3 linked regions of the Homo sapiens genome follow. The protein of the gene in region 1 purifies or fractionates together with the protein of each later gene. This does not show direct contact. Each region holds a gene or a part of one and is shown on either strand. Other genes may lie near its edges.

Region 1 (7,029 bases):
ATCACTTTGTTCAATTTTACTCATTAGTTTTATTACTATACTGAAGAAATCATCGTAGCAATCCTAAAATGTTAGGATTCACTTCTCTGATAGGCCAACTTTTATCTACCTAAAAAAAATGGCTATGATCATTAGGAATAACATAACAAGTGGGCAAAATATGGTAATTTAGAAGCAAATTATTAAAATAGCATATTCAAGACATACATTTTTTCAATTAGCTGTTTCTCATCCAAGGCATTAGGAAGATCTCTCTTGTTTCCAAGCACTAGCACCTTTAAAAAGAAAAGATATTAAGAGCACACGTTTATGCAAGAAAAAGTCACAGAAGTTTATCATCTTGATATGTGAAGACACAAAGTTAAGATGTTAACACATTCCACAATGTTAAGGCCTATTTGTGTAACTGGTGGCTTGTCTCATTCATTTCATTGCTCACACTTGTATTCACTCAACTCCCACCATGCAGGTGCTCTTAATTCAGTATGTGGCTGCCAACTGCTATGTAAAATAGTCTGAGTCTATGATACACATTCTGCTATTCTTTTTGTTTGTTTGTTTGTTTGTTTGTTTGTTTGAGACAGAGTCTCGCTCTGTCACCCAGGCTGGAGTGCAGCAGCCACTGGGCTCACTGCAAGCTCTGCCTCCCGGGTTCACGCCATTCTCCTGCCGTAGCTGGGACTACAGGCGCCCACCACCACGCCCAGCTGATTTTTTGTAGTAGAGACGGGGTTTCACCGCGTTAGCCAGGATGGTCTCGATCTCCTGACCTGGTGATCCGCCCATCTCGGCCTCCCAAAGTGCTGGGATTACAGGCATGAGCCACCGCGCCCGGCGGCATTCTGCTATTCTTAGTACAGGTTTACTATCCCTTATCCAAAATACCTGGGACCAGAAGTGTTTCGAATTTTGGAAATTTTTTGGATTTGCATTATATACTTACTGGTTGAGCATTCCTAATCCAAATGCAAATTCCTAAATGTATTCTAGAGACTGGCCTCTTCTCAGTTTCCCACTTCCTCCCACCCAAAGGCCTTTGCCTGGAACTCTCTTCCCCTCCAACTGTCATATACCTCACATTTGTATGTATCCCTTGGATCTCAGCTCAACCATTACTTCCTCGTGAATCCCTCCTTCTTCCCTCAAACTAGATCACATCTCCCCTCTAAATTACAACTCTCATATCCCCTTGCACCTTTCTTCCTAGCACTTAAAGCTGCATTATTCAAGTGTTTTCAGAGTATCTACCTTTCCCACTAAACCATAAGGTCCATGATGGCAAGGAGTATGTTTCTACTGATTTCCATTCATCACTATATCCCTGGGCCTACGCACTGCTCCTGCTGCATAGTAGTTTAGTAGATACGTGGTTATGAGATTCATATTTAGCACAATGCCCAGTATATGGCAGATACATGGTAAGCAAGTTTTCCAGATTTTAAAAATGAAGACATGTTACTGATTTCAAACATAATTAATATCACTGCATAATTACCATAATTAATATCATTATATAATTACAATGTAAAATAACAAGTATTCCATACTTACTGGAATTCCTTGTAACTGTGGTTTATCTAGAAGATTATGTAGCTCATTTCGGGAAGCTTCTATCTTTTCACGATCTGCAGCATCTATCATGTAACTTAAAAAAATGAAGTGATCTCAACATACCTTCTCTGTATGCCTTGATGATGACAACTAGTATTATTGATTTTTAATTTTTGTAAGATTTACATTATTGAAATTATTAACCAAAATAAACTATGTCATAAGAAAAGGCTCAGCACCCTTTAATACTTTTTAACTAGACTGTTTTTAGAGACTAATACATGATAGTAAAACATGTACACCCCTTAGCTCTTAGCTCCATAAACAAAAAACATAAAGATCTTATTCTATGATTAATTTTTTTTAAATCCCATGTTGGGAATTACACTAGGATATTAGCTAAGAAAGATTTTCACTGCCTGAGATAAAAATTGAGCCTCTGGAAATACTAAAATAAACTTTCTTCTTTGATGCCTACATTGATTTAAAAGCAAACAAACAAAAAAAAACCACTTACACAATAGCATTGACTCCTCTGCAATACCGCTCCCACATGCTTCGAAATCGGGGTTGTCCTCCTATGTCCCAGATCTTTAAATCAAAACAAGGCAATTCTTAATAAAGATATTTTAATTAAATGATTGCAAGAGGAAGTAACAGAAAAAAAGAAAGATCGGGAAGATATATTTATTTCTACAATGTTAGAGGCAAAGTGCTCCTGAAAGACTTGACCTCAAACAAGCTCTTAATATGGGAATTCTTGGGGCCACTTCTAAACTTGAAGTCCGTATTTAATACATTTACAATACATCTAAAATTTTGCTTAAGCAAAGATTTGGTTTATGTGCAATAGTTTGCCTGTTAACTAATATACTTCTATTATTGAAAACATATGTCTTTATGATAACAATTTAAAAGCTACAGGACCATGCACCATCCAGATTTGAATGCCAAGACAGAAAACAACAATTCAGAATCTATTAAGTCTTAATCGTCTGATTTGTTCTACATTAATGCCTAACCTTTTGAAATTATCCTGTAAATAAGTAGCCAACATTTCCACATAGGTGTTTTTCTTGTATAAAATTATTTTGGTCAGGCATGGTGGCTCACACCTATAATCCCAGCACTTTGGGAGGCCGAGGCGGGTGGATCACTTGGGGTCAGGAGTTCGAGACCAGCCTGGCCAACACAGTGAAACCTCATCTCTACTAAAAATACAAAAAATTAGCCAGGTGTGGTGGCAGGTGCCTGTAATATACTCGGGAGGCTGAGGCAGGAGAACCACTTGAACCTGGGAGTCGGAGGTTGCAGTGAGCCGAGATCACACCATTGCACTCCAAGCCTGGGCAACAAGAGTGAAACTCCATCTCAAAAAAATAAAATAAAATAAAATTATTTTATGCACATGAAAGCCACATCCATAATCATTTTATTATTGTGTCTACTCCGTAGGGCATCACACTAGACACTGGGCTACATTAAAGTCTCAAGTCACAGTATTAATCTTCAAGAGGCTTCCGGTTTAACTAAAGCACTGGTAACAAGCATAAAGAAACCTGCACTTGACTAAATCTGGAACTTCATTAGATGAGCCACAGAGAAAGTGAACAGCTTCTGTAAACCACAATAATTGGGCAAAATGGACATTAAGGCTCAGGCCATAGATTTGATTTTTGAAAAACAAAATAGATTAAAAATCTATTCTTGGCCAGGCGTGGTGGCTCACGCCTGGAATCCCAGCACTTTGGGGAGGCCGTAGCAGGCAGATCATTTGAGGTTAGGAGTTGAGACGAGCCTAACCAACATGGTGAAACCCTGTCTCTACTAAAAGTACAAAAAATTAGCTGGGTGTGGTGGCACAAGCCTGTCATCTTAGCTATTTTGGAGGCTGAGGCAGGAGAATCACTTGAACCGGGAGGTAGAGGTTGCAGTGAGTGGAGATCGCGACACTGCACTCCAGCCTGGGTGAAAGAGCAAAACTCTGTTTCCAAAAAAAAAACAAAAAAACAACAACAAAAAAACCTATTCTTTTGAAACATGCACATTCATTACTGAAAAACTGCAAATTTTCAGTAAAAACACAGAAATTTAACAGAAAAATTTCTAGGGGTCTGTGCTAACAATTTAAATTGCGTACGGCAAGAAATAACTTACCTTTATTGTGACGTTACCTTTAGTTACCTTCCTCATGTTGAAGCCCACTGTGGGTATCATATCTTCACTGAATTGACCTGACTGAACAAAATAAAACATTTGAAGTTAGGCTACTCACTTATAATGACACTGCATAAACTTCTAATATCAACATTGCATTTGTAACCATTTTAGTAAATATTTTTTTACCATTGGTAACAATCTACTTTAAGAACATGTTCCTTATGGCCATAATTCTTGAAGAGATGCATTATTTTGTCCCAACAAAGATATATTCTTCCATCTAAAAAAGATATTTTTGAAACTAATGTAATTTTTTACATATTTCCTTATGCTAAAAGAATTTTATATGACAAATACATACGAAAATTTTTAAATGTGTTCACCTAGATGTACATTTCCACAAAGTAGATGAGATCAGAAATAAAACTTTCAGCATTTAAATTATTCTGACAGTAACTATTAAAATTCACTGCTAAACAGCATTTCCAAGTCTGTCTTTTAATAAGGCTTATAAAATATTTTGTCATACAGAAGTTTTTCCTTTTATGTAATCAATTTTGTTCTCTTTTTGGTTACTTATCTCAATGTCATGAGTATTGTCTGCTATGGCCTTATGCTAGCCACATACACATGTATTCCAAAATTGTCTTAAATCTTGAGCACAACGAATTCCAACTGTACAAATAACTTCCTATACAGAACTCGAATTGTGCCTCTTTTAACTGTTCAGTGGAGTTTTATTAACTTCAGAAAAAATGTTAACACAGCCATAGTCACTACTTTCACTTATATAAGACATTATAATTCTCAGGACTTTCACATATGTGATTATATGTGAAAATCTAGTCATTCTATCTAAACTAGTTATATCAAAAGTAAGCCATGATAAAAGATAAATGGCCAATGAACTCATGAAAAGACGTTCGACTCACTAATCATTAGGGAAATGCAAATCAAACCCACAAAGAGATACCACCTAACATCCAGTAGGATGGCTACTATTAAGAGGAAAAGAAAAAAAACAGAAAGCACTGGAAAGAATGCAGAGAAATAGGAACTCTTGTATACTGCTGGCAGGAAGGCAAAATGGTATAGCTGCTATGAAAAATGGTATAGCAGTTCCTGAAAAACCTAAAAATAGAATTATCATATGATCCAGCAATTCAACTTCTGAATATACACTCAAAAGAAATGAAGACATTTTGCTAAATGAAATGAGCCAGAAGTCTCACACACTCACACACACACACACACACACACACACACACACACACAAACACTGTATTTCACTTTATGAGGTACCTAAAATAGTCAAATTCATAAAGACAGAAGATATTAATTTGCTTAATGGGTATGGAGTTTCAGTTTGAAAAGATAACAAATTTCTAGAAGTGGACAGTGGTGATGGTTACACAATGTGAATGTACTTAACACTACTGAATTGCACACTTAAAAATGACTAAGATGATACTTTGTGTTTTATGTATTTTACCAAAATTTTTAAAAAACTAGTCATCATACAGGGAGGGACAATTATCATTATCATTTCATAGAACAGGTAGTAGAGTCCCAAGGTCACATGGCTAAATCGTGATTATATTTTTCTTAAATATTTTCATTGTAATTATATTTATTGTGATAGGCTTTAATCTCTGAGGAGAGATCTACGTGAGATAATGCTCATTTATTTCATATCATTAAGTGTTTTACATAATGAAGAGGCAGGAAAAATAGTAGCTAAAATTTTTAGGTACCAAACTTTACAACTAGCTTGCATGGAAAGCTTTCTAAAAGGCAATATACACTTGGCTAACTTCCCACAAACAACCTATAGAACATGATTTAATGTGTTCTCAATGTTTCTGGGTCAGTTTATCTATTGCAAAACAAGAAAACTAAATTAGATAACACTCAAGGGCCCTCCCTATTGGAGGTAAAGTTTTATGATTATGAACATCAACTACAGCACTTCATAATAAAATAATGTAGGGGGCTGCAGTATACTGGGGTACCCCCGAGCTTTCTCAGGGGTTCATTTATCTCTTTTCTTTACCTTGGCCAACCCTAACAACTTTCCTGTAACTCAGCTGCTACTGCTAACATGCAAAAACCGAAAATTAGCTAATCAAGTCCTTGAGTTTTTACTCCAAAATTCTTGAGTAGAGCAAGATATTCAATAAATATTTGTTGAACAAACTAAGAGTTATTAGGGCCAGGCATAGTGGCTCAAGCTTGTAATTCCAGCACTTTGGGAGGCTGAGACAGGCAGGTTGCTGCGGCCCAGGAGTTCAAGACTAGCCTGGGTGACACGGCAAAACCTTCTCTCTACAAATACAAAAATTAGCCAGGCATGGTTATATGCACCTGTAGTCCCAGCTACTAGGGAGGCTGAGGTGGGAGGATTGCTTGAGCCTGGGAGGTGGAGGTTGAGATCTTAAGAACGATATGACTTTAAGACAAGATTGTGCCACTGTACTCCAGCCTAGACAATAGAGTGAGAGCATGTCTCAAAAAAAACATAGGCCATGAAGGAGGAAAATGCTGGAACTCTTCTGCCAATAAAGTGCTTAACTTTGATGCATGAATTTTGTGCAATAATTACTTTATGGACCTGGAAGTATTTTCTACTTCTTTCCTAGTGTCCAATCTTAATCATCACTTTTCAAAGCTTGTGTTGAACAACTATAACCACTCAGTTGGCAACTGGGCACTAGATACCTGAGAATTTATGTCTGAGCTGTCAAGAAGCTGCTTAATTAAGACTACAGGTTTGGGAAACAGATGTTTAGAAAATACTACTTAGTAGTATATCATTCTACTTATTTTAACAAATTTAACAAACACGTAATACTAAGCACTTAACATTCATCAGCATAGTTTAATCCTTATAACAACCCAATGAAATGAGTAGCATTATCTTCATTTCTCAGATGAGAAAAACAAGGCAAAGTCAGCTTAAGTCACTTGCCTAAAGTCACATTGTTCTTAAGATCTGGATAATTATGAGTTAATCTGACTTGGGGGGGAAAGAGTAGAAAAATAAAAGTAAGTAGTCCCTCCTTATCCTTGGGGGATACGTTCCAAGAACCCCAGTGGATGCCTGACATCACAGATAGAACCTAACCCTATGTACACTATGTTTTTCCCAATACATACATACCTATGATAAAGCTTAATTTATAAATTAGGCACAGTACTCTTCTGCTTTAGAGTCATTATTATTTCAGAGGTTGATCATAGGTAACTGAAACTGGAAAGCAAAACCATGGATAAGAGGGACTACTGTATGCTTTCATGCCTGCCTTCTTAAATGCCATG
Region 2 (7,029 bases), on another chromosome or scaffold:
AACCTCCACCTCCCAGGTTCAAGCAATTCTCCTGCCTCAGCCTCCTGAGTAGCTGGGATTATAGGCGCCCACCACCACCCCAGTCATGCCCAGCTAATTTTTTTTTTTTTTTTTTGTATTTTTAGTACAGACAGGGTTTCACCATGTTGGCCAGGCCTGTCTTGGACTCCTGACATCAGGTGATCTGCCTGCCTCGACCTCCCAAAGTGCTGGTGTTACAGGCGTGAGCCACTGCACCTGGCCCAAATACATTTTGAACTCAAATATTATTAGGCCGGGCGCAGTGGCTCATGCCTGTAATGCCAGCACTATGGGAGGCCAAGGGGAGCGGATCACCTGAGGTTAGGAGTTCGAGACCAGCCTGGCCAACATGGTGAAGCCTCGTCTCTACTAAAAATATAAAAATTAGCTGTGTGTGGTGGTGCGTGCCTGTAGTCTAGCCTGGAGAGGCTGAGGCAGGAGAATCAGTTGAACCTGGGAGGCAGAGGTTGCAGTTAGCTGAGTTCATACCACTGCACTCCAGCCTGGACAACAGAGCAAGACTCTCAAAAAAAAAATTATATATATATATATGTATTTGGATCTAAGGAAGGAGAACAGATTAATCAGGTAAATATTTTCACTTGGTAGGAAAGCAAAGCCCTTTCTCCCATCTCCACCCAAAGGTAAATAATTTTTTTTCTTCTCTGGAAAATAACAAAATATATCAGGCTGAAGTTAATATTATCAGTACTGTTATCTGTAAGTCCTACATCCTACATCTCCATAGATTTATCTTTTTTTTTTTTTGCAAATAAGAAAAAATATTTTAAAAAATAGAAATAAGGTAAGTACCTGCTCCATTCCGTTTGATTTTCTGGGTTTTCACATGAGCCACATAAACGTGATATCACCTGTGATTCTAAAGGTCCAAGTGTTCAGAAATAGATTATGATTACGGCTCACATGTTTAACAAAAATTTGAAAGGCAGATTTTGGAAAGGTAAAGATCAAATAATCTCCTTGTGAGCTTCCAAAATACTATTTCCAGACCATCACTTGAGAAACTGAGTATTATTTTGGTCACAGATCATATAAGATCTTTTGTAGTTTAAAATTAAGTTTTTTCTTTTTTTTTAATCTTTGTGTTACCCTGACATCTTCTGGCCAAAAGAGAGAGCTGCACATCAACAGTTGAACATTCTCAAGCTCATTCTCACAAGAGGCAGGGAGCAATAAATGCTTCCCCTTCAAGAGCAGTCAGGATCACCCAACTCTATAAACTGCTTCACGCTGATATAGCATAGCCCTTCAGCTTCCACTGAGAATTTCACTGAGTAGATGAACTTGCAGCATGCCCTTTAAGAAAATGCACTAACAGGCCGGGCGCGGTGGCTCATGCCTGTAATCCCAGCACTTTGGGAGGCCGAGGCCGGCGGATCACAAGGTCAGGAGATCGAGACCATCCTGGCTAACACGGTGAAACCCCGTCTCTACTAAAAATACAAAAAATTAGCCAGGCGTGGTGGCGGGCGAATGCAGTCCCAGCTACTCGGGAGGCTGAGGCAGGAGAATGGCCTGAACCCGGGAGGCGGAGCTTGCAGTGAGCCGAGATAGCGCCACTGCACTCCAGCCTGGGTGACAGAGCGAGACTCCATCTCAAAAAAAAAAAAAAAAAGAAAAAAGAAAATGCACTAACAGAACAGAAGAAAAATAAAAGTTAAATTCTGTGGAGCCTTTTTTTTTTTTTTTTGGAGAAAAAAATCTCTAATTTGATCCAATTTTTTTTTCTTTTTTTATAGAGGGGGGTGTCACTCTTTCACCTAGGCTGGAGTGTGGTGCATAATCATAGCTCACTGCAGCCTCAAACTCCTGGGCTCAAGTGGATCCTCCCACCTCAGCCTCCCAAGTAGCTAGGACTACAGGCACAGGCTACCACACATGACTAATTTATTTATTTTATTTTATTTTACTTATTTATTTATTTATTTTGAAATAGAGATTTATTTATTTATTTAGAGATCGAGTCTCACTCTGTCACCCAGGTTGGAGTGGCACGATCTCAGCTTACTGCAATCTTGATCTCCCGGGTTCAAGCGATTCTCAGCCTCCTGAGTAGCTGGAATTACAGCCACCTGCCATCACACCCAGCTAATTTTTGTATTTTTAGTAGAGATGGGGTTTCATCATGTTGACCAGGCTGGTCTCAAACTCCTGACCTCAAGTGATCCTCCCGCCTCAGCCTACCAAAGTGCTGAGATGCTAGCATTACAGGCATGAGCCACCGTGCCCGGCCTTAATTTTTTTTTTAGACAGAGTTTCGCTCTTGTCACCCAGGCTGCAGTGCAATGGTATGATTGCAGCTCACTGCAACCTCTGCCTCCCGGATTCAAGCAATTCTCCTGCCTCAGCCTCCCGAGTAGCTGGGATTACAGTTGCCCGCCACCACGTTCAGCTAATTTTTGTATTTTTAGTAGAGACAGGGTTTCACCATGTTGGCCAGGCTGGTCTCGAACTCCTGACCTCAGGGAATCTACCCGCCTCGGCCTCCCAAAGTGCTGGGATTATAGGCGTGAGCCACCACGCCCAGGAATTTCTTTTTTTTTTTAAAACTTAACTTGGTGCTCATTTGTTACAGCACTAAATTTCTCATTTTTGGTAGAGATGGGGGAACTCACTATGTTGCCCAGGCTGGTCTCGAACTCCTGGCCTCAAGCAATCCTCCTACCTTGGCCTCCCAAAGCTCTGTGATTATAGGCATGAGCCACCATGCCCAGCCTGGATTCAAAAAAAATTTTTTTTTCTTTTTCCTTCTTTTTCTTTTTCTCGCTGCCTCCTCCAAGTAGGAAGACTACATATGGATTCAAGTTTTTTTTTCTTTTGAGGCAGTGTTCCGCTCTTGTTGCCCAGGCTGGAGTGCAGCGGCATGACTTCGGCTCACTGTAACCTCTGCCTCCCAGGTTCAAGCGATTCTCCTGCCTCAGCCTCCCAAGTAGCTGGGACTACAGGCGCGTGCCACCACACCCGGCTAATTTTCGTTTGTATTTTTAGTAGAGATGAGGTTTCACCATGTTGGCCAGGCTGGTCTCGAACTCCTGACGTCAGGTGATCCTTCCGCTTCGGCCTCCCAAAGTGCTGGGATTACAGGCATGAGCCACCGAGCCTGGCCTGGATTCAAAAATTTTTAAGATTTATTCTGGACTCAAATTGAAAAACAGGATCTTTTTAAAAGGTAGAAACTAAGTTATTTACTACAACTTTTTTTCTTTCTTTTTTTTTTTTTTTTTTTTGAGATGGGGTCTCACTCTGTCACCCAGGCTGGAGTCTGGAGTGCAGTGGCATGATCTCGGCTCAAGCAATTCTCCCACCTCAGCTTCCAGAGTAGCTGGGACCACAGGGGCACACCACCACACTTGGCTAATTTTTGTGTTTTTAGTAGAGAGGGGTTTCTCCATGTTGCCCAGGCTGGTCTCAAACTCCTGACCTCAAGGGATCTGCCCACCTCAGCCTCCCAAAGTGCTGGGATTACAGGCATGAGCTACTGTGCCCGGCCATTTACTATAACTTAATGCCAAATTTACCTAAAGAAGTTCAATTTAATTCCATTAAATCTTTAAAATGTCTGCAACGATAAAGAAAAGCAAGTACTCATGCATTCTAAGTCTCATGTGGACCTTCTGATCTTGCCTTCATAAATTAGGACCTGTGTGTTTTCCAAGTTTTCTGTTTGATATAATGCATCTCACTGCCTAACAGTCCTCTATCCTAGGAACTAACCATTACTGTCTCCTACTGCAAGAAAAGCACTGAGCTTCATTTTTAAAAAGTTCCCACCAGGACTGGCTCACACCTGTAATCCTAGAGCTTTGGGAGCCTGAGGCAGGAGGGTTGTTTGAGGCCAGGAGTTCCAGTGACCAACCTGGGCAACATGGTGAGAACCTGCTTCTACATAAAATGTTTAAAAAAATTAGCCGGGTGTGGTGGCATGCACCTGTAGTCTCAGCTACTCAGGAGGCTGAGGTGGGAGGATTGCTTAAGCCCAGGAATTCCAGGCTACAGTGAGCCATGAAGGCCCCACTGCCTTTCAGTCTTGGGTGACAGAGCAAGGCCCTGCCTCAGAGAAAATAAAATAAAATTTAAAAATTCCCTCTCCCTATCCTCAGAAATGTCAAATAGCAACAGCATTTCTATCTTTATGAGATGAGTAAACCACCTGGTAACAAAAGAGGGTATAATTCCACACTTCACACATGCTATGAGGACACCATGTTCATAACAAATAACAGATTTCAAATGAAAATTAAGGCTATATATTTCATAATAAAAGTTCTTTTTTTTTTTTTTTTGAGATGGAGTCTCGCTGTGTTGCCAGGCTGGAGTGCAGTGGCACAGTCTCAGCTCACTGCAACCTCTGACTCCCTGGTTCAAGCAATTCTCCTGCCTCAGCCTCCTGAGTAGCTGGGATTACAGGCATGCACCACCACGCCCAGCTAATTTTTGTATTTTTAGTAGAGACGGGGTTTCACCATGTTGGCCAGGATGGTCTCGATCTCCTGACCTCGTGATCTGCCCACCTCAGCATTCCAAAGTGCTGGGATTATAGGCGTGAGCCACCGCACCCGGCCAAGAAAAGCTTTAAGACATTAAGGTGATCCAAATTTTAGTGGTCAGAACACACATCAACCTTACAAAAATGAGAGAATATATTTGATTCTAAAATCAAACTTCATATATTCTTTCTGCTGTCATTTTTGTCCCTCAAGCACCCAAGTAGCTGAGAGAAAATTGGACATACCAGAGGACTGTATCATCAACGCAAGTCTCTTGAGATGCCTTGTTGATCGGTAGATCAAGTTATAGCCTCGGTTTCTGATTTTGCTGTGGTGATACTGGATGTAGCATTCAAGGAGTAAATGGAGAATCCACAAAATAACTTTCCCAAGGATTATAACCGTCTGAACTTTCAATGGGTTTGTGTAATTTCCTGGGCACTTGTCCTCATTTGGATTAGGATAAGAACAAAGCACACCTGTTAAAAATGCTAAAACAACAAACACGAGCTGGGGGAAAGGAGAGCAGAAAGATTAATATTCAATATTTGTAATTAGGAAGCAATAACTACCATCCCAGCATACATTCTTTTTTTTTTTTTTTTTTTTTCTGAGACAGAGTCTCACTCTGTCGCCCAGGCTGGAGTGCAGTGGCGCAATCTCGGCTTACTGCAAGCTCCACCTCCCGGGTTCACGCCATTCTCCTGCCTCAGCCTCCCGAGTAGCTGGGACTACAGGCACCCGCCACCACGCCTGGCTAACTTTTTGCATTTTTAGTAGAGACGGGGTTTCACCATGTTAGCCAGGATGATATCGATCTCCTGACCTCATGATCCACCCACCTCAGCCTCCCAAAGTGCTGGAATTACAGGTGTGAGCCACCGCACCCGGCTTCCCAGCATACATTCTTATACCTACAGCTTCCCCTGTCCTATTTTTATAAATGAGTTTTTAAATGTATTTTCGTTTTGTTTTGTTTAAATGTATTTTTGTTTTCTGTGTGAGATACGGTCTTGCCCTGTTGCCCAGGCTGGAGTGCAGTGGTGCCATCTCTGCTCACTGCAGCCTCAACCTCCTGGGCTCAAGCGATCCTCCTACCTCAGTCTCTGGAGTAGCTGGAACTACAGGCCTGTGCCACCATGCCTGGCCAATTTTAAGAAGTTTTTATAGAGACAGGTTCTTGCTATGGCACCCAGGCTGGTACAGAGTATGTTACACAAAAAGTAAAAGGAAAGAAGAAAAAGAGGTCACCATCTGGAAACCACAAGGCCACCCCTGCACATGGTGGTACCAAGAAGAAAGCGCTTCAGCTGGGATCTGGGGATCAGGAAGCCATGGTGGAGCCATACCACAGCTACTAGTTCCCTCAAGGAAAGGGGATACCACCTCTCTCCCCAGTGATTCAGTTCTGAACTCAAGTCTCCCACAGTGCACTTCACTGGAGAGGAATCCCAGCTGCAGGGGAAGCCAGGAAATGTGCTGAGGGATACGGTCCCTGCAGACAGGCAAACCTATCAGTAGGAGGCTGAGCAGAGGCTGAGCAAGTCAATCAACTCCATTCACAGTCCTCGTAAATACTCAAGGAGTGGTGAGAATGAGCCCTCTTGATTTTTCACATTGCAGCAGAGAACAACTATAACCCCTAGTGCTTCCAACTGCAATCGTCGAAAGGGAGGAACTGATTAAACAGACTGGCAGTGGAGTCACCACCAGTGAGGCCTGCGATAAGACCTTTTGCACATGTGTTTTTATAAACTCCAGATAGTTGTAATTTTGTCATCATACAAAAATTGTACATATTATTCCACTGCAACTTGATTTGTCTGCTAAACATTATTCCCTAGGTATAAGTAAATTGATAAATTCCTGTGTCAACATATGTAGACTTTTCTGCATCTTTTTTGTAACTGAAAAAGTAATACAAGCACATGGTTAAAAAATCAAGTAGTATTCAAAAGTAAACAGTAAATTATATTAGTGTCTCTTCCACCAAGACCCTCAGTCCTCATTTCAGAGGCAACTAGGTCTGTGAATGCTTCTAGAAATATTCTATTATATACAGGAAAACAGGTCCACAACAGCCCTCTCAACTCCCTTTTAAAAACTGCAGATAGGAACATTCTGTACACAAGGTTGAAAACTTGATTTTTTTTCACTCGACAATGTAATCATGAAGGCTATTCTATGTTAATATACTGTATACCTATCCACCCCATTCTTAACAGTTGCATAGCATTTCCTTATATGAATGGGACACACAGTGTCTTCTGGATGCCAAGTAGCCAGGTAGTTTGTAGTCTCTTGATATGACAGACAACATGGCTATTATCAACAATATCTTTACATGTGTGCAAATATATCCACAATGAATTATTTGAAGATATAAGTAAAAGTGTACGTACTTTTTTTTTTTTTTTTTTGCCCATGACACAGCACTCAGGATGTCCTAAGAACATGTGCCCTACATTTTAAATGTTGATAGATACAGCACAACTGCCCT
Region 3 (7,029 bases), on another chromosome or scaffold:
TGAGACTCCATCTTGGGAAGGGAAAAAAAAAAGAAACAATATAAAATATCAGAGTCTATCACCTATATACATAAGTTCCATCTACTGTTTCATGGAACTTACGTATAAAGGTATAATTTACGAATATTTTGTTATATGTGTAGGTGTATACACAATTTATTTACTAGGTCATGATGTAAAATACATTTCTTACTATAGGTCAAATCAAAAAACTCAAAAGCCATAGTACTTGACGATATACTTAGTGCAAAGTTTTAAAAATACCTCAGTTTTCCAGGCATTACATCATATTGTTGTCTTAGTTCACTCCCTCTGAATCCCACTTAAGTTGCTTAGGTTACTTAAGTATCTTTCTTTTAATTTATGGCCCCTTTTTGTTTAGGGTTTGCATTACAACCCTTACACTATTAAAAAACTTTCATTTTTTAAATCTCTGCTTCCTATTTCTTATATAACCAATTTATTAATAAAATGCCATAGTAAGAAAAATTTGTGTCATCTGTTGCTCTGACTAGGTCACTGCCCTTCACTGGCTCCCTACTGCTTAATGCGTCTAATTCAAAAATTGCTTATTCCCTGTTTTGATGTCTATCCACAGTTCAATTCATCTAAAAATAATCATCTCATTTATTTCTCTCTGTTCTTTCTTGTTCGTTATACTCCTGATTTTAAAGGTCACCCACCTACGATCATCAGAAACATCTCGTTTACATACTATGCTTTGTTTATTTCTTCTCACATTTGAACTATCAGCTCCTAGTGGTCGGTGACCAAATTTAAGCCACCAGTAAGCTGTCACTCATCATGTTTCAGCCACAAGGAAAAAATTGGTAAAATAAAAGGATAAAAATTCTCTTTATTTTCCAAGTATTCTCCTCTTATTATTTCATACCTTGAATGACAGAATAACTATTTCCATCATAGAAAGACTAAAACTTCCCTCCAATAGCTTTATAACCTTAAAAAGGTTTAGTGAGATGATTTAAATGTGGAAAAGAATACCCAAGAAAGGCCTTCAGAGAATATGATAATAGTTTCTTCTCTACACAAAGAAGTAAACAATGTTTAGCTTTTTATAATGTAAATATCACTTAGGTAATATTTTCTCTTAATAGCAAATCTCAATTTCTATTAAAACAACACTCTAAAATCTATACAGTATAACGATGTTTTACATTATAGCTTTTTTGAGGTGTAACAGACATAAAAGAAGTTGTACTTAAATGCAAAATTTGTTGAGTTTTAAGATATGTAAGCCCGTGAAGCCATCAGTCTCCCAAAAGTTTCCTCATACTCCATTGTAATCCATCCCTTCTTGCCCCTGCACCCTAGGCAGCTGATGATCTGCTTTCTGCCACTACAGATTAGTACACATTTACTAGGATTTTTATATAAATGTAATCACATGGTATTTTTGGTCTGAGTTTTTTCACTCTGTAATTATTTTGAGAATCATCCATTTTGCTGCATGTATCAATAGTTCATTCCTCTTTATAGCTGAGTTGTAGTCTGTTGTAATGCTGTATCACTATTTTTCGATTCATCTGTTAATTGATATTTGGGTTGTTTCCAGTTTGGGGCTATTAGAAATAAAGCTGGTATGAATATTTGTACATAATTCTGTGGACACATGAAGACATATTTATGTTGGGTAAACATCTGGGAGTAAAGTGGCTAGGAAATATAGATGTGTGCTTTATTTCTTTTTTTTGAGACAGGGTCTTGCTCTGTGGCCTAGGCTGGAATACAGTGGCATGATCATGGCTCACTGCAGCCTTGACCTCTCAGGCTTAAGTGATCCTACCACCTCAGCCTCTGGAGTAGCTGGGACTACAAGTATGTACCACCATGTTCAGCTACTTTTTTAAAAAATTTCTTATTTTTGTATAGAAGAAGTCTCCCTACATTGCCCAGGCTGGTCTCAAACTCCTAGGCTGAAGCAATCCTCCCGCCTCGGCCTTTTAATTTCTAAAGAAACTACCAAATTGTTTTCCAAAGTGATTGTATCATTTTACGTTCCCATCAGTAGTATATCTTCTGTAGTAATTGCTGGTTCAAATCTTTAGATCATTTTTAAAAAGTGGATGTCTTCTTATTAATGAATTATAAGCATTCTTCATATATTCTAGATATAAATCCTTTGTCAGATACATTTTTCACAAATATTTTCTGCTAGTCTGTAGCTTGTCTTTTCATTTTTGTAACCGTTTTTCTTCAAATTTATTTATTTAAATTGATAGGTAAAATTGCATATATTTATCATGTACAACATATTGTTTTAAAGTATATATACACTGTGGAATGGTTAATCTAGCTAATTTGCATTATCTCACAGTTATCGTTTTTTGTGGTGAGAACACTTAACATCCACTCTTTCAGCATTTTTCCAGAATGCACTATATCATCATTAACCATGTCACGATGTTGTATAATAGTGTAACCGTCTTTTGAAGAACAAAAGTTTTAAATTCAGTTAAAGAACAATTTATTGATTTTTTTTCTGAACTATAAGTTCATGCTTTTCTCTGTCCCATTTAAGAAATGTTTGCCAAAACAGGGTCACTACAATTTGTTTTCTTTTAGAAATTTTAAGTAGTTTTAGCTCTCACACTTAGGTCTATGATCCACTTCCAGTTAATTTTTGTAAATGGTATAATGTAACAGTTGAGGTTCATATTTTTACATATGACTATTAACTGTTTCAGCACCATTTGATGAAAAAGATTACCCCTTCTTCAACTAAATTAGCATCTCTGTCAAAAAATTAATATATCATATATATATGAATCTACTTCTGGAACTTCTTATTCGGCTCTACTGATCTATGTCTGCTTATGCCAAACAATAGTAAATTGACTATAGTATAATAAATCTTAAAATTTGTAGAATAGTAAATTCTCTCCAATATTGTGCCTCTTTGTCAAAGTTGATTTGGCTATTCCGTGGCCTTTGCACATAAACTTTAAAGTCAGCTTGTCAATATCTACCCTCCCAAAAAAGTCTGCCAATGTTTGATAGTTTGATTAGGGTTACAATAAATCTTTTTTTTTTTTTTTTTTTCTTGGAGACAGAGTCTTGCTCTTTTGCCCAGGCTGGAGTGCAGGTGGCACAATCATAGCTCACTGCAACCTTGAGCTCCTGGATTCAAGTGATCCTCTCACCTCTGCTTCCTGAGTAAGTAGAGCTAAAGGCGTGTGCCAGCATGCCTAGCTAGTTTTTTTTAATTATTATTTTATTTTTTGTAGAGATAGGGTCTTGCTACATTCTCAGGCTGGTCTTGAACTCCTTGCCTCATGTGATGCTCCTGCCTTGGCCTCCCAAAGTGCTGGGATTACAGATGTGAGCCATTGTACCTGGCCTTCAATGAATTTTTAGATAAATTTGAGAAGACATCTTATATTTAGTTTTACAATCCATGAACATGGTTATATCTCTTCATTTATTTAGTCTGTTTACAATATTCTCTCTCTTTTTTTTATCTATAGTGATGTCAACCTTTCTTTCCTGATATTGCTAATGTTTGTCTTTTTCCTGATCAGTATCTATTTTATTTTATCTTCTGAAGAATTAGCTTTTGGTTTCATTGGTTTTCTCTCTCTCTTTTTTTTTTAACGGGCAGGAGGCTTTCCTTAACTTTGATTTGCTCTTATTCTAGTTTCTTAAGGCAAAAAAATTAGGCTATTTTCTTTTTTTTTTTGAGACAAGGTCTTGCTTTGTTGCTCAGGCTGGAGTACAGTGGCATGAACACAGTTCACTGCAGCCTCAACTGGGCTCAAGTGATTCTCCCACCTCAGCCTCCTGAGTAGCTGGAATCACAGGAATGCACCATCATGTCTAGCTAAATTTTAAAATTTGTTGTAGAGATGGAGTCTCCCTGTGTTGCCCGGGCTGATCTTGAACTCCTGGGATCAAGCAATCCTCCACCTGGGCCTCCCAAAGTGTTGGGATCACAGGTGTGAGCCACTGTACCTGGCCCTAGGCTGTTCATTTAAAAATTTTCTTGATAGTACTATTTTAACTGCATCTCACACATTTTCAAAGACTGCAGAGAGAGAAGTTAACTTGTGGGAATAAACGCAAATAATTCCTGTCCATGGAAATGCAGACTGTGTCCTGTGGAATACAATTAATACCCTGTGAATACTGTTCAGTTTTGCATCCATCTTGTAAATTCATTTCAGTTTCTTTATTTGATTATCAATGTATAGTAATTTGAGTTCCCTTTTGAACTGGCTGAAATATCTTACCAGTTTCCTTATCTTGTTAATTAATGAGATAAAAGTTTTGAGATGTCTTCATTATCATATAAGTCATGATTTTACCTATCTAAAAACAGCATCTCTTCAGAGTATTTTATTAATATAACCCTAAAGAATGAATGGGCCGGGTGTGGTGGCTTATGCCTATAATCCCAGTACTTTTGGAGGCCCAGGTGGGAGAATCACTTGAGGTTAGGAGCCTGAGACCAGCCTGGGCAACAAAGTGAGACCCTTTCTTTATAAGAAATAAAAAGATAAACTAGCTGTGGTTGTGCATGCCTACAGTCTCAGCCACTTTGGAGGCTGAGGCAGGAGGATTCCCTTGAGCCCGGGAGGCCAAGCTGCAGTGAGCTATGATCACACCACTGCACTCTAGCCTGGGTAACAGAGTGAGTCCCTGTCTCAAACAAAACAAAACAAAACAAAACAAAACAAAACAAAACAAAACAAAAAGAATGGTGCCTAGCATTTTGAAAATACTAATATTTTCTTACCACTGTAAGTTTCTACAAAAATTAGTGAAAACTTTCCCACACTCTTAGAAGTTTATGGAAACTGGTCAAGCAAGAAGGTTTTCCCATATAATAGCATTTTAAATTGACAGCACAAAGATGTTCAATCCAACTCCCCAAATAAATCAGTAGGCTTTACTTTACATCAGTAATCTGATAAAACTCCTTCAGATTACTTTTTAAAGTATTTCTTTACACAAAAACTATTTCTAATAATAACAGTAATAATTTCCAACAAAGCTTATTAACATCATTTTAAAAATCAAAAGAAACACCTTAGAATTTCCGAAATTTTATAATTTAAGAGGCTGGTAACTCACATTTGAACAAATGTTAAGGAAAGTAGTCAAATAAACAGTACAGTCTTCATCACTAATGCAATGTAAGCTCTAAATTAGCCTTTTTACCTTTTATTTCCAATAAGCATAATGACCATGTTGGAATTGGAATGCTGGCGGGCATCTTCTAACCAGGTTGTCAAGTGGTTGAATGTATCTCTCCTAAACATAAATAATAATTTAATTACTATGTTCAAAGCATTTCCCTCAGTATACAACGAACAATATACATATTTTTAAAGAGAACCACTTTTAGCCATATCCACTTATGTAACGAGAAGTAGTTTTAAGCACCATATCTGGGTTTAGAGTTCACTGATTGTATTTCAGTTTATAAATTAAATGTAATCACACTTTAGAAAATTCCAATGAATAAATAATATGGCCGATTTCAATTTGAAGGTGCTAATTCAAATAAGAAAAACAATTCAGTTGCAGGTTTCTGTAGTAAATTTAAATTGGACTCAAGATGCAGTTTTAAAGGTGAGTAGCCGGGGCAGAAAGGCTAAGCTATTCTTTCATTACTGTTAACCACATCTATTTAGAAAAATTCTCTGTATCAACTACTGAATTGCAAAGTTTTCAAGTTCTCACCGTGTAATATCGTAAACTAGTAAAGCTCCTGCTGCACCTCTGTAATACGACCTTGTGATGGAACGAAAGGATTCTTGCCCTGCCTGTAACGAAAAAAAAGGTTGGAGAGTTTCCTTTAATACAATGTCCTCTACATTTTCATATTATTCATATACAGAATAAGAGCAGGTAGGGAAGGAGTGCATAAAGAGAGACAAGAAAACTTAACTTCACCAGTCTTAGGAAAAAGTTACAAAACACCGCTATTGCTCAAGATTGCTCAAGTCAACGAGACGCACATGTAGTGCACATGTAGTCGCTCCTGCAACCTCCCCAGCCCGCAAGACCTCTAAACCCTTTTTGGCAATCCCTGACAACCCAATTTACTGAATGGCTTCACAATACACGAATCATTATTAAAGGACAGAATGGACTCCTAGCAACTAAGCTCTGAAGACAAATTTGAAAGGAAGCAAATAACCCAGAGCCTCACATTTGAATTCAATAACCCACTCCCTGGGGCAGCTGTTGACACTAGAATAAATAAAACCCATTGTAAATAAATGATGAATGACATCTTTACGCCCACCATCTGCTGGTGTAAAGGTTGTTGGAAGGCCAAGGATGCAGATTTTATCAGTTATATCATAAACTGCAGTGAGCTTTCAACAGTCATCAAATGGAATTCTTTGAGCAATCATTTTATTATGAAAAGCAAAATGGTTCTGAATTTAATTTATATAAGTTTTTTTCTCCACACTTAATCAATTTTCTCTGTATTTGATATATAATGCTTGTCAAAAGGCAACAGGATGTAAAAGTCATCTTTATATCCACTTGTGAAACAGACACAAGAGATTATGCAAAGCTAGGTAATTTCTCTTTTACTCATGGTACTAATTTCTGTTTTTTTAAGAATTGCTGGGGAGGAATGTGACTGTTCTGTCTGAGTTTAAAACCGAGACAGCTCTTATAAGAAGTTATTTTTCATTTTTAATCCCTTCTTTTCCTACTTTTGCAAAAACATAAGCATTTTAATTAAGTAAACGTAAAGCCAATTTTAACGATTTTTATATTCAAAATCCCCTAACTTGAAAAATATTGATGTTTACACATTCTGAGTTCTGATCTTGCAATGTAAATATTTAGCCCTTCCCACCCTCAGAATGCGCATGGACGGCTCATATTCTACCCTGTTTAACACTCAACACTCTACAATACCTTGCTCTTGTTGACCCTTCCTCTATACTCCCTCCCTCCCCCATCCCCCACCCCCTGCATGTGACTAAGTGTGTGCTAGGCACTGGGTCCGGCATATAGCAGGCATTCAGAGAAAGCCTGTTGAGT

The links. Proteins that work in one complex are often made in the same cells at the same time.
Region 2: the proteins of ARL8B (region 1) and TMEM192 purify together in Homo sapiens (affinity purification with mass spectrometry; 2 studies listed by BioGRID and IntAct, with this or other methods). This does not show direct contact.
Region 3: the proteins of ARL8B (region 1) and RAB2A fractionate together in Homo sapiens (co-fractionation; 2 studies listed by BioGRID). This does not show direct contact.

What each region holds. Positions count from the first base shown.
Region 1 is NC_000003.12:5,167,263-5,174,291, reverse strand, and holds part of ARL8B (ADP-ribosylation factor-like protein 8B), read right to left. Parts: intron 3,790-7,029; coding exon 3,709-3,789; intron 2,143-3,708; coding exon 2,069-2,142; intron 1,646-2,068; coding exon 1,552-1,645; intron 276-1,551; coding exon 208-275; intron 1-207. UniProt on the Homo sapiens protein: Small GTPase which cycles between active GTP-bound and inactive GDP-bound states.
Region 2 is NC_000004.12:165,095,854-165,102,882, forward strand, and holds part of TMEM192 (transmembrane protein 192), read right to left. Parts: intron 5,040-7,029; coding exon 4,775-5,039; intron 1-4,774.
Region 3 is NC_000008.11:60,582,965-60,589,993, reverse strand, and holds part of RAB2A (ras-related protein Rab-2A), read right to left. Parts: intron 5,787-7,029; coding exon 5,704-5,786; intron 5,272-5,703; coding exon 5,179-5,271; intron 1-5,178.